2 linked regions of the Homo sapiens genome follow. Changing the gene in region 1 together with any one later gene gives a genetic interaction. Each region holds a gene or a part of one and is shown on either strand. Other genes may lie near its edges.

Evidence for each region.
Region 2: changes in ARMH3 (region 1) and RIC1 are lethal when combined (synthetic lethality), as found in Homo sapiens cells (one study listed by BioGRID).

What each region holds. Positions count from the first base shown.
Region 1 is NC_000010.11:101,990,162-101,997,204, reverse strand, and holds part of ARMH3 (armadillo-like helical domain-containing protein 3), read left to right. Parts: intron 1-1,849; coding exon 1,850-1,908; intron 1,909-3,601; coding exon 3,602-3,667; intron 3,668-5,166; coding exon 5,167-5,236; intron 5,237-6,593; coding exon 6,594-6,654; intron 6,655-7,043. UniProt on the Homo sapiens protein: Involved in GBF1 recruitment, Golgi maintenance and protein secretion.
Region 2 is NC_000009.12:5,772,101-5,777,094, reverse strand, and holds the end of RIC1 (guanine nucleotide exchange factor subunit RIC1), read right to left. Parts: intron 4,532-4,994; coding exon 4,354-4,531; intron 4,204-4,353; coding exon 4,015-4,203; intron 3,138-4,014; coding exon 2,849-3,137; 3' UTR 538-2,848; downstream 1-537. UniProt on the Homo sapiens protein: The RIC1-RGP1 complex acts as a guanine nucleotide exchange factor (GEF), which activates RAB6A by exchanging bound GDP for free GTP, and may thereby be required for efficient fusion of endosome-derived vesicles with the Golgi compartment.

The DNA.
Region 1 (7,043 bases):
CAACCTCTGCCTTGTGGATTCAAGCGATTCTCTTGCCTCAGCCTCCTGAGTAGCTGGGATTACAGGTGCATGCCACCACGCCTGGCTGATTTTTGTATCTTTAGTAGAGAAGGGGTTTCACCATGTTGGCCAAGCTTGTCTCCAACTCCTGACCTCAGGTGATCATCCCACCTCAGCCTCCCAAAGTGCTGGGATTAGAGGTGTGAGCCACTGAGCCCAGCCCCTATTCCCTTGGGTTTTCCCCTGCTTTTAAAGCCTTTATTACTTGGGATTTTTCTGACTTTGGTGGTGTCACCTTAAAGAAGCTTCTGCTCAACCTTTATAATAGATACTAGGCAAAAAATTGTAAAAACCATGTATATCTATGCATAGACTTAAAGTTGATTCACCAAAGTCTTAACAGTTATAACATTTGGGTGGTATGATTAAATTTGATTTTCATTGTTTTGTGTGTATATGCTTTTTTAGAGTTTAAAAGACTGTCTATAATGAAATAAGCCTAGTTTTGTATTCATAAACACTTTAATTTTAAAATTAAAAAAAATTTTAAGTGGAGAGATAGCTGCAGGCTTTTCTGTGGGAGTTGCGTATCAGTTTGTGGGAGGATAGTGCCATAGAAACTGGCTAAAGGTGGGTAGAAGAGTTGTGAATCTAGTTTTCTGGAGGCAAGGGCATTACTCTTTGGCTATATCGGGGCTTTGATGAAGCTCCAGGGAGTGTCAGATAGGGATTGTCACCATTACTCTTTTTGCATTGCCTATCTCTGAGGAGATGTGAGTATATTTGTGGATTGTAATCCCCATTATGCCATCTAATTGTCAGGTTTTAATTGATAGATCCCATTTTTGAGAAAGAAGCAGGTCAATGTCAGGGTAAATAGTAATAGCTAACTTCTACAGCACTCTAATCCATTAAGAGGTCTTCTCTCTAGATTGGACTTCATTCTGGGTCCTGTTGAAGCTAATTTGAAAATCATGAGCCATTTGTCTGTTTTGGCTATGCTGGCATGATCCTCTTCTTACTTCCTTTTCACTCCTTCACCCACAGAGTTTCTGGAAAGTAACATAAGCTTGATGGGTTCTCGTACTTGGCAGTAATGGATTAGCTCTTTTTTGTCCTTTTGTGTGTGGGCTTAGAGCCCTGCTACTGAGGTTGTCTTCTTCTTTTTTAATAACTAGAATGTGAGTTGTGAGAGACCAGGGACCTTTGTCTGTTTTATTCAGTGCTATATCTCTAGTGCCTTGCACAGTGCCTGCCACATAGTAGTGCTAAGTAAATATTTGTTGAATGAGTAACTTTGACAGGAAGAAAAATGATCAAGAGTTCACAGCTTTCTAGGGCATAAGTATACAATTGCAAGGAGAAGCGTGGGCTGGACCCTAGTCTCCAGTTAATTTCTTTTTGATTTCATTGCCAGTTTGCTATGAGCAGTCATGAAATCTTTCTAGATTTTGTGGTAGGTGGTGCTTAGAGCTGGCAGATGAGAGGGTGGGTGGAAAAGGAAATGGACCTGACTATTCAAGTTCTATCAGCAAAGGGCTGATGTGAGAGTACTGGCCACTATTTGAGCCATGACAGTAGGAACCATTGTGAGTTAGATGGCTTTCAGGAAGGTGGTTAGCCATTTAACAGACTACCAGGATATTAAAAAAATAAATCTTCTGGGGGAATTCTTTTGCCTAGGAGGGAAGCAAGAATTACTATAGTAGTACCTTGATTTTCATTTATGGATTTTGTGGGAAGAGAAAGTGTGAATGTTTCCTTTTATGATATACGTCCTTGTTCTGTATTGAAACAGATGATGTAAATCTGGATGATTTACAGAGAAGAGTTTCTTTTTTCTTTACAGATGAACACAGGCTTCACAGTGGCAAACTCTGTCTGATTATCCTTACATGTATTGCAGAGGTAGGTCTCACGAGCCTTCTGCTATTAGGCAGTCTTTTACAAAGTGCTATCTTTCCCTGCCTCCCCTCACCCCATTACTGTCTCATGACATTTAGGGTCCTAAAGTTTAGGAGAGAAAATCTTCCCCCTTTGTATTATCTGTCTTCTCCCACTAGAGTGTAGTCTTCGATGAAGCCATGGATAGACAGGGTCTTGTCTGCTTCCACGCTGTTTAGCACTGTGTTTTTAAACTGTGGAGCAGTTTGTTTGTTTGTTTGTTTTGAGACGGAGTATCGCTCTGTTGCCCAGGCTGGAGTGCAGTGGCATGATCTTGGCTCACTGCAACCTCCACCTCCCAGGTTCAAGCGATCCTCGTGCCTCGGCCCCTCTAGTAGCTGGGATTACAGGCAGTGCCACCTTGCCCGGCTAATTTTTGTAATTTTAGTAGAGATGGGGTTTTGCCATGTTGGCCAGGCTGGTGTCAAACTCCTGACCTCAGGTGATCCACCCACCTCGGCCTCCCAAAGTGCTGGGATTACAGGCGTGAGCCACCATGCTCGGCAGTGGAGCAGTTTAAAAAATAAAAAAGGAGCTCAGGTTTCCTGTGATGGGGTGAAGGGGTGGATAGTAAAGCCAGAGAGGGGAATTGGAAACTCAGTAATTGCAGTTTGCCGAGGAACAAGAGCTGAGGGGAAAAAAGAAGAGATGCTTTGGCTTTTTAAGAAGCCACTTTTGGTTGGACTAATTAGGTTCAAACTCACCATGTATCTTGGTGACACACAGGCATGGCAGAACTTGAGTGAGTTTAGAGCTAAATTTATAGCTTCAACCTCCCCCTTTACTATTCCCCACTCTGCTCTTTTCTCTCTTAAGAAAAATGGTGAAGATATTCCACATGAAGTAGAGATCTCTCTCAGTCTCTCTCTCTTCATGTTCTCTGTGGAAAGATGACCTCCTTTTCACAAGATTAGGGGTGGCTGGTTATGGAAGAGCTGCTTATTAGCAGTGGGCCTGGTATAATTGCTTTTCAAAAATCTTTCTAAGAAAATCTTTAAAGGAGTTGTTTTTCACAAATTGTAACAGTTCCTTGTAATTGGAGTCTGTAGGCTTGTCAGATCTTCAGAAAAGGTATTGGGAAAGGGCCAAGGGATGTTTATTACTAATCCATGGTAAGAGGTTTTTGATTTTCTGTCAGTCTTCAGGAAAGCCCGGAATAGACAGGGTCTTGCCTGCTTCCACGCTGCCTGTGTAGCAGTTTGCTTCTGTTGGGCTGAACCCATTCCCAGCAGAGCACAGATTTTTCTTCTTGCTCCTAAACCCTCATGTGGAGCCTGCACATGAATCCTGCAGCCTCTGTGAAAACCTTAAACTATCACAAACAGAGCCAGCTCCTTGGGCAGATGGGACGGAAGAGGGAATAGGAAAACAGATTACTCTCATTCCTCTCAGCATCTGCCTTAAGTCCCTGCGTCTTAATTTTTATTGTTTTTGCTTGGAAATTTTTGACCAGTTAGAGATACACTGGGAAATTACACTAAAGAAAAATCTCATGGCTTAAGTAGGGTTTGACATAAGGCTCTAGGCTCATCCTATTAGCTGTCCAGCTGATCCTTGAAAGTAGTTCTCAAAGTCCAAGGATTTGTACGAAGTGTGATAGATTACAGTTTCTTAAATATAGCTCTCGCTTCTTACTTTTTCTCTATATTTTTATTAGGATCAATATGCCAATGCATTTTTGCATGATGACAACATGAATTTTCGAGTAAACTTACATAGAATGGTAGGTGTTTCTTTTGCTTCTTGTTTTTTCTTAGAGGAAATTTTTTGTATGTCGGCAGGGTTGGGATGAAATTGATCTTACTAGAACAAATGTGGGTGGAAAGTTGTGCCAAAGGGCTTTGCATGACGGCTGTTCAACAGACCCATGCTTGTTGTTGGGATTTTTGTGTGTCATGGAGCTGTTTCTTAATCAAGAGTTTTGGAAGATTCACAAGCGTGGCAATGATACTGGATTTCTTTTTTTTTTTTTTTCTTTTTTTGAGGGAGAGTCTCTCTCTCTCTCTCTCCCCCCCAGGCTGGAGTGCAATGGTGTGATCTCTGCTCACTGCAACCTCTGCCTCTTGGGCTCAAGCAGTTCTTCTGCCTCAGCCTCCTGAGTAGCTGGGATTACAGGTGGCTGCCACCACGCTCGGCTAATTTTTGTATTTTCGTTACAGATGGGGTTTCACCACGTTGGCCAGGCTGGTCTCCAGCTCCTGACCTCAGATGATCTGCCCGCCTTGGCCTGCCAAAGTGCTGAGATTACAGGTGTGAGCCACCGCGCCTGGCCTGATACTGGATTTCAATAATATAGGTTTCAGCAAGGAAATGGTTCTAAGCCTTTTGTTTTCAAAATGTAGTATAATTTTTGAGTGGCTAAGACTAGCTGCTGCTCAGATTTGTTCATCTGAGAAGTGGGCAAATAGAATATGGAGGATCAGGGAATTTCTTAAAGCTTGGAGGTATGTTAAAAAATATCACATTGAGGGCCGGGCTTGGTGGCTCATACCTGTAATCCCAACACTTTGGGAGGCCAAGGCGGGATCACAAGGTCAGGAGATTGAGACCACCCTGGCTAACAGGATGAAACCCCGTTTCTACTAAAAGTACAAAAAATTAGCCGGGTGTGGTGGCAGGCACCTGTAGTCCCAGCTACTCAAGAGGCTGAGTCAGGAGAATGGCGCGAATCCAGGAGACAGAGCTTGCAGTGAGCCGAGATCGTGCCACTTCACTCCAGCCTGGGCAACAGAGCGAGACTCCGTCTCAAAAAAAAAAAAAAAATTACATTGAGGTTTAGATGTAAAACTTTCTTTATTTTTTTGCAACTACTACTGTTGCTGCTTCTATAGGTGGCACCATCACTTCCTCTTTTTTTTATTATTATTATTTATCGTCAAAGAAAAACACCAGTGTACCTCTTTTGTCGTTAGTAATGCCACTTATATAACTAAAAGCAAAGTAAAACCAACAGTTTTCCCATTGTAGTATTCTCTAGTGCCCTTTGAGGTTGTGAATTGTAATTTTGTAACAGGCGTGCATTGATAACTGAAGCATTCACAAGTCCTCCCTTCCCCGCCTCATCCCATGCTACCTCATTCCTCTCCCACCATGTGAAAAAGAGAAAGAAAAGGAAGTATCCCTGTAATAGTGATTTTATTTGCACAAGGAACATGATGATGGGCCATTGGATGTCAGTGCCGGTGTCTACTAATTTCCTTTCTTCATTTTTTTGGTGTGAAGCCTATGAGACACAGGAAGAAGGCAGCAGACAAGAATCTTCCCTGCCGTCCTTTAGTATGTGCAGTACTGGGTGAGTGAGTATCATCAACATTGACATTGTTCTGTGACAGCGATAGGCTTTCATGATGAAGATGAAGAGTAGAACCTGTTTGATGTGCTTCTTCCGCAAATAAATTATTAGTTGTGTTTTTTCCCTGGCCTAAGAATCATGTTTATTGTTGTGTTTGGTAAAGCAACCCCAGTTATAGAGTGGTCAATAAAAGGGTCCTGTTGTTCAAAGAAAAAAGTCATTCCAGTGAGACAAATGGCTGTGTCTAAACTTGATACATGATTTACAAGATACATGATCAAGATTTCAGGCTGGGCGCAGTGGCTCACACCTGTAATCACAGCACTTTGGGAGGCTGAGGTGGGCGGATCACTTGAGGTCAGGAGTTTGAGATCAGCTTGGCCAACATGGTGAAAACCTGTCTGTACTGAAAATACAAAAATTAGCTGGTCGTGTTGGCGTGCGCCTGTAATCCCAGCTACTCAGGAGGCCGAGGCAGGAGAATCGCTTGAACCCAGGAGGCAGAGGTTGCAGTGAGCCAAGATCACGGCATTGCACTCCAGCTGGGGCGAGACTGCATCTCAAAAAAAAAAAAGATTTCAAATTCTTCCCATCCTTTCTTGGTTTGAATTGATGTGCTGGCTGGCCAGGAGGCTTGAAGTTCATGGTTTACATATACAAAACTTCCCCTGAGTATATTAAACTGAGATGAGGCTGACTGAGTTGACAGGTAGGGGGCTGTATCTTGGGTAATTTTGTCTGTCCAGAATTCTGCATTTTCCTCAGGGAATTAGCTGAATTCTTAATCCCATTTCACTTGGATATTCAGCCCCAGTTTCTAAATCTACTTAATTTTAGAAACAGTAATTAAGGCTGTATAATAAGCCTCTCTTGACCCAAAGCCCCACAGCCCATTTCAGTCAATATCTGTCTAACTGAGCATGATAGTAAGATGAGATTGACTGACATAGCTTTAGAGCTGAGTCTCTGGTTACACAAATGTGATCCATAATTTCTTCTCAGAGCTTGCTTCATTGTCTAGTCTCAGAATATGATTTCCCTTTGGCAGTCTGCATTAATGCCATGGGATGAAATATCTATACAATGAAATTTTCCATTTATCTGAATTTATTGGCAGGTCAGGGTATCCTTCTGGAGGTCAGCAAGTGAAATAATTTCTTATTACTTTACAAGTGGCAGGTGGTGAACAGTGTTACACAAAATGCGTTATATAAAATAAGTGTATATGAATAAAGATGTGGTTAGTGGATGCCGTTCAGTGTGAGTGCAAGGTGTACTCAGAAGCTTTTTTTCCAACTCAAAGACAAGAAATGAATTCCATTGTAATTGATCCAGTTTTTCTCTATTCCCCTTTCAGACCTGATGGTAGAGTTTATTGTAACACACATGATGAAGGAGTTTCCTATGGATCTCTATATGTAAGTACAAATATGTACACATTTAATGTGTACAAATCTATTTTAAAGAACTGAATGTTAGAAAATTCATGGTCTGTGTAGGCCGGGCGCCATGGCTCACGCCTGTAATACCAGCACCTTGGGAGGCCGAGGCGGGCGGATCACAAGGTCAGGAGATCGAGACCACGGTGAAACCCCGTCTCTACAAAAAATACAAAAAATTATCTGGGCGCAGTGGTGGGCGCCTGTAGTCTCAGCTACTTGGGAGGCTGAGGCAGGAGTATGGCGTGAACCCAGGAGGCGGAGCTTGCAGTCAGCTGAGATTGTGCCACTGCACTCCAGCCTGGGCGACAGAGCGAAGACTCTGTCTGGGAAAAAAAAAAAAAAAAAAAGAAAGTTCATGGTCTGTG
Region 2 (4,994 bases), on another chromosome or scaffold:
AATCTAAACTATGATGAGACACTACTTCATATACAACTTGGATGGCTACAGCCAAAATAACAACATGCTTTGGTGCCAAGAAGTGAGATAGAAAAGTTCACATACTATATGTTTCCATTTATATGAAATGTCCAGAATAGGCAAATCCATGGAGACTGAAATTAGGAAAATGGGAAAAAGTCAAAGTACTTTTTAATCCCGCTTATTAGAAATGACGCCTAGGTTCCTCTATACTTACATGTAAAATTTTGTTTGCTTGGTAGGTATCTTAAGGTATACATAATTTTCTGTCATTCCTTCATTATATTTTGAACATTTTCCATGTCATCGACATGGGCTGTTTCCTCCAGTATTTTACTGTCAGGCATCTAGGATGTTGCGAACTCTTGATGCTGTCATTCTAAATCTACATATAAATAAATATTTTAAATAAATCTGTCTGAATTTCATTTCATAAGGAAAATTCTAAGAAGCAGAATTATATAATGAAAAGATGATTTTCGTGGCTGTTAACCTGAGATGATGAATAAACCAAAGTTTGTGTAATGGTTTTATTGCCCTTTACCAAGGGGAGAAAAATACACATTACAGAAATAGCAGCAACTTTAATTACAAGCAAAGGTTGATTTTATTCCCACACCCCCAATGACTTGTTTTGGTTTCAGCAAATAATTTATTAATAAATGCATCTAGTAAACCTCAAATAGTTATACTGAATATTTAAATTCATTGGCTAAAATTATGGCTTAAACAGTTGATATGTGAACCAAACACCACAATAAAAATGGGTTTTTAAAAATTAAGGTATATAACAAATAAATTACCAAATTTTCTGTAAACCTGCCAAACTTCTTGCCTGGGGGCCTCCTATCTCTATTAGTTGTAAAAGAATATTGTATAAAAGAAATGATTCATTCACGGCCTAACCCACAGGAATACAGTTAACTTATACTGGTGCCCTGCTTTCAAGAATGTTTGAGATGAACTCAGCAGCACAGTGTTTTATTTCAGATACTTGAAAAGATCACAGCTCTTTATAATGGTAAATCATTTTTATTGACTGAATATTCACACCAAACACAAAAGCAATGCTGGTTCTTCTCCTTAATGGACTAGGATAGGAGAAGAGAGTTCAGTTTAGTTTCTTGCTGGGCTGCATGTACTCACATGCAAAACATTATCTTTAAGATTCAGGGAAAGGTGGTTTGAAACAAAGACTTAAATAAAAATAGCACCAGAAGGACCAGGTACCAATAATCACATACTCCACCCATTCGGGAGTTTCATTTTGTGAAATATTATTGCACTTGTAATGTAAAAAGTAAATGATAGTAAATTACCCAACTCAGTAATTTTAAATACTTCGATGTATTCTGAACTAAGCAGTTTCAAAATGGTTTTGAGTTTCTCTTCAAAGGAAACCTGGCTAAGACAACTAAATCTAGCCATTTACTTTAAAAAGCAAGGAGAGAGGACCAAGTTTTGTTTCTAAACTACAACTGCACTATGAGAAAAGAGGCTATTTTAGATAGTGGTACGAATTTGGTCCACATCAAATACATCGTTATTATAAAAATAAACAAGTTTGTTTTTTGTAAAAAATAACATTGCATTCCTTGTTCAAATTGCACAGTACAAACAAGCTGTCTTAATACTGTTATAAGGTAATTAGAATTACATACAGTGGATGGGTGTTTAAAGCAATTAAGGAGTATGCAGTTGTTTTCATAATGTATGAAAACAAATTTAAGTCATTTCTAGAAGTACATAAAATACTTTAAGTTTACAATGAAGAATGCATTCTTTACACACTAATTTTTAGTAGCCGTGGTAATACAGGATTCAGCAGTCTATTTACATAGAAGTCCATCTTTATTCAATTTACAAAAGCAATAAATAAGAGACTATGTTAATTTGCACAAAACTTGCTGCATTTCATGATCAGTGTGACCATTTCTGTTACTTCATGACCAAGCCAATAAACCTGTCTTCCTCAGTTTTGCAGAGGAGCAAGCCCTGTCTTTGTATGTGTAGACATGCAGAATCCAGCATTAAAACCTTGCAAATTATAATACAAGCCCTAAAATATGAACAGTGCCTTTGAATATATTTACACAAGAGTATTCACAAAAAGATACTGTTCTTTAATACAAAATAGTTTAGTGGTATCTAACAGCAAAATTGAGAAGAACCCCCTCAGACCTCTGCCCACATTGGTCTAATGGGAATCAAGCTTGCTAAAACAAGCACATTAACTCACAGGTAAATAGCTTCCATCAATTCTGGACTGGGATTTGACTGGCTAGTAAAGCCAAGGAGAATGTTTCCATCACACTGGCACATATTGTGCCCCAGGGTAGCAATCTATTCAGGAGGACTGATTAAAGAGTCCAGCTGTATCCAAGGGAGCAAACAGGTAGCTCAAGTACCTGACAGACTATAGCAAGCACCTTAGCATTTATTTTTTAAAAAGCAATCTGGACATAATGCAGAACCGGGAAATGTGAGAAGATGTAAGTAGTGAAAAAGTAAGCTCACCTGGGGCAAAACAATTCCTGTGGTTTAAGAGCTACCAACCTTTGAGTAAAACCAAAATATTCTCATGTACATCTGTACAATATTTACTTTTCACTGCAGCTTAAAATTTTTTTATGAAAGATGCTTTATATCACATTTTTATGGAGTCAAAAAGATTTCTTAGACAAGAAAGAATTAGTTAAAATCTACTAATACTTACCGAAGAGTCTCTGAACTGAGTTCTCCTGTTAAATCATCCAACTATGTTACAACGTACTGAGCTGCACGCTGCTGCTAATTAATACTGCCCCTTTGTGATGGAACCTCACTGTTAGGACACAGAACAGTCGTAAGTCCCATCCTGAAAAGGTTCTTCCTCCTCTGCTTGGGCTGTGTCCTCCTCTTTCCGGCTGACCATATTGCTGCTTCCAACTTCACCCTGGGGGATGCTTCCATGGCTGGAGGAGCCCCTGCTCTCCTCTGCCCGGGGGCTAGTCTGTTCTGGAGTCTTACCCATAGTTATTGGTTGGAAGGCATCTGGCTGGACCTGCTCTTCTGTTATCTCACTGAGCTTCTGCAGTTGTGGCTTAATGATGTTTAAAAATGGCTTATATCCAGGACTATGTAGAGAAAAAAAACATTAGCTCATCTGCCATAATTCAAAAGGTTTGGTAGAACATTACGGGTGAACTTCTACTGAACATTGATATGGTAAAGACGACGATAGATTAGGAGGGGAGAGAGGAGGCAAAGAAGGTAGGGAGGAAAGGCTTCTTGGCTGTCCTGCCCAGCAGAGGGGGCTGCACATTGCATAAGCCTGAGGCTTAAGTTTCTAAGCATTAGGGGCAAAGGCTGATGTTTTAGAACCAGTATTACAACTAAAAATTATATTTTACAATTGAAAGGCCAACAGGAGCTTAGACTTGAAAAAGGACCTTCAGACAACATTTAACCTAAATGCATTTGCCAATTAAGGAAAACCAGATCCAAGTAAGGGAAGTAACTAGCTCCAAATACACACATTAACTGGTAATAAAGACAGGGCTAGAGTCCAAGGCTCTTAACTGCAACCACAACTCTAATTTGGATTTGCTTGTAACTGCCATGGAATGTTAAATTCACATGGACCTTAAGTTTGAATCTTTTCAAGTAGATATTTGTAGACCATTGCTTTCAATTTCACAGGGATGCAAATCTGAAGTTCCAGTCTAATTCTAAGCTCATTTGCACTGCATCAATCTTAAGTCAGTGATATACATTCACACTATAAATTATACACTGACCAACAGTGTAACCTTACTCGATGGAATTATCCATTTAAATAGCTGGGTATAGAATGATTACTAAAGAAAGTAGCTTAAAAATGAACATATAATAAATAATATATAATAAATAAATAAAATGTAACACATGAACCATAACTAGGCCTTAATGTGAAAGGACAGGATTCACCAAAAGACATGGAAGGACACCAAGCCTAAGGAAAGCAGCACTTACCAGTCTGTAGAGGCCCATCGGTCCACTGCATGGAGCCCTGTCTTTATGTTCTGTAACATCTCTCCATCTACCTCTGAAGACTGTGTAATAACCAAAATCTGATTGATTATTGAGGATTCTCTAAGAATCAGGCCTATAACGATGCACCAGTCTAGGCACCCTGCCTCCATGAAAATGTGTAGCAAATACCTAAATATAAGCAGAAACAAAATGATTTATGCTAAGAAAGATCTATAAGATGTACAGAAGTGCAATGATTATTAGGAGAGTAGCCCCATACCTATTTGCCCAAATACTCTGAGTAGGCATTCTGTGATTTCAAATAGCCAAGAAACTCACCGAAGCTGGACCTGGGATTTATGAGGCCCTTTACTGGCCAACTCCATGGAAATGTGCTCCAGCTCTGACTGAGTTAAACTGAGTGTAGAGAAATTTTCATCCACCATTGTCCAGTCGCCATCCACCATGGAGCTACTTTCAGTCAAGTCTGTGGCTGAACCAATACTGCATTCATCACCTGATGAAGAATTGCCAAAAGTTACAACCAACTTCGTGGAGAAAATATATTTTCCTTTAATTTTAAATATTAGCTGTTCCTCAGATGTTGATTTCTCAGGATCTTGAAACTAAAACATGAAATCCATGGCTAAAATTACCATGTGAACATAGAAAACATTTAAAGAAAGAATTAGATAACCGACATTATGTACCTTTAGATGGAAAAATATACTACCACCACCTATGAAGCAGTCTTCCCCAACTCCCTCAATAAAATCTAGCTAGAGTTTGACCAAGTCTTTACATTCAGCTACTACAGGAAATAGAGGAAACTGTTAAACTAAACCATGGAGATGTAATAAGCAAAATCATTATTGTGAGAAAATCCACAAAACCAAATTTCTTCCATGAATAAACTGCAAGGAAGGGAAAAGGAGAGGGTGGGGGAACATCCACTTAAAAAGAGAATTAAGAACACAATC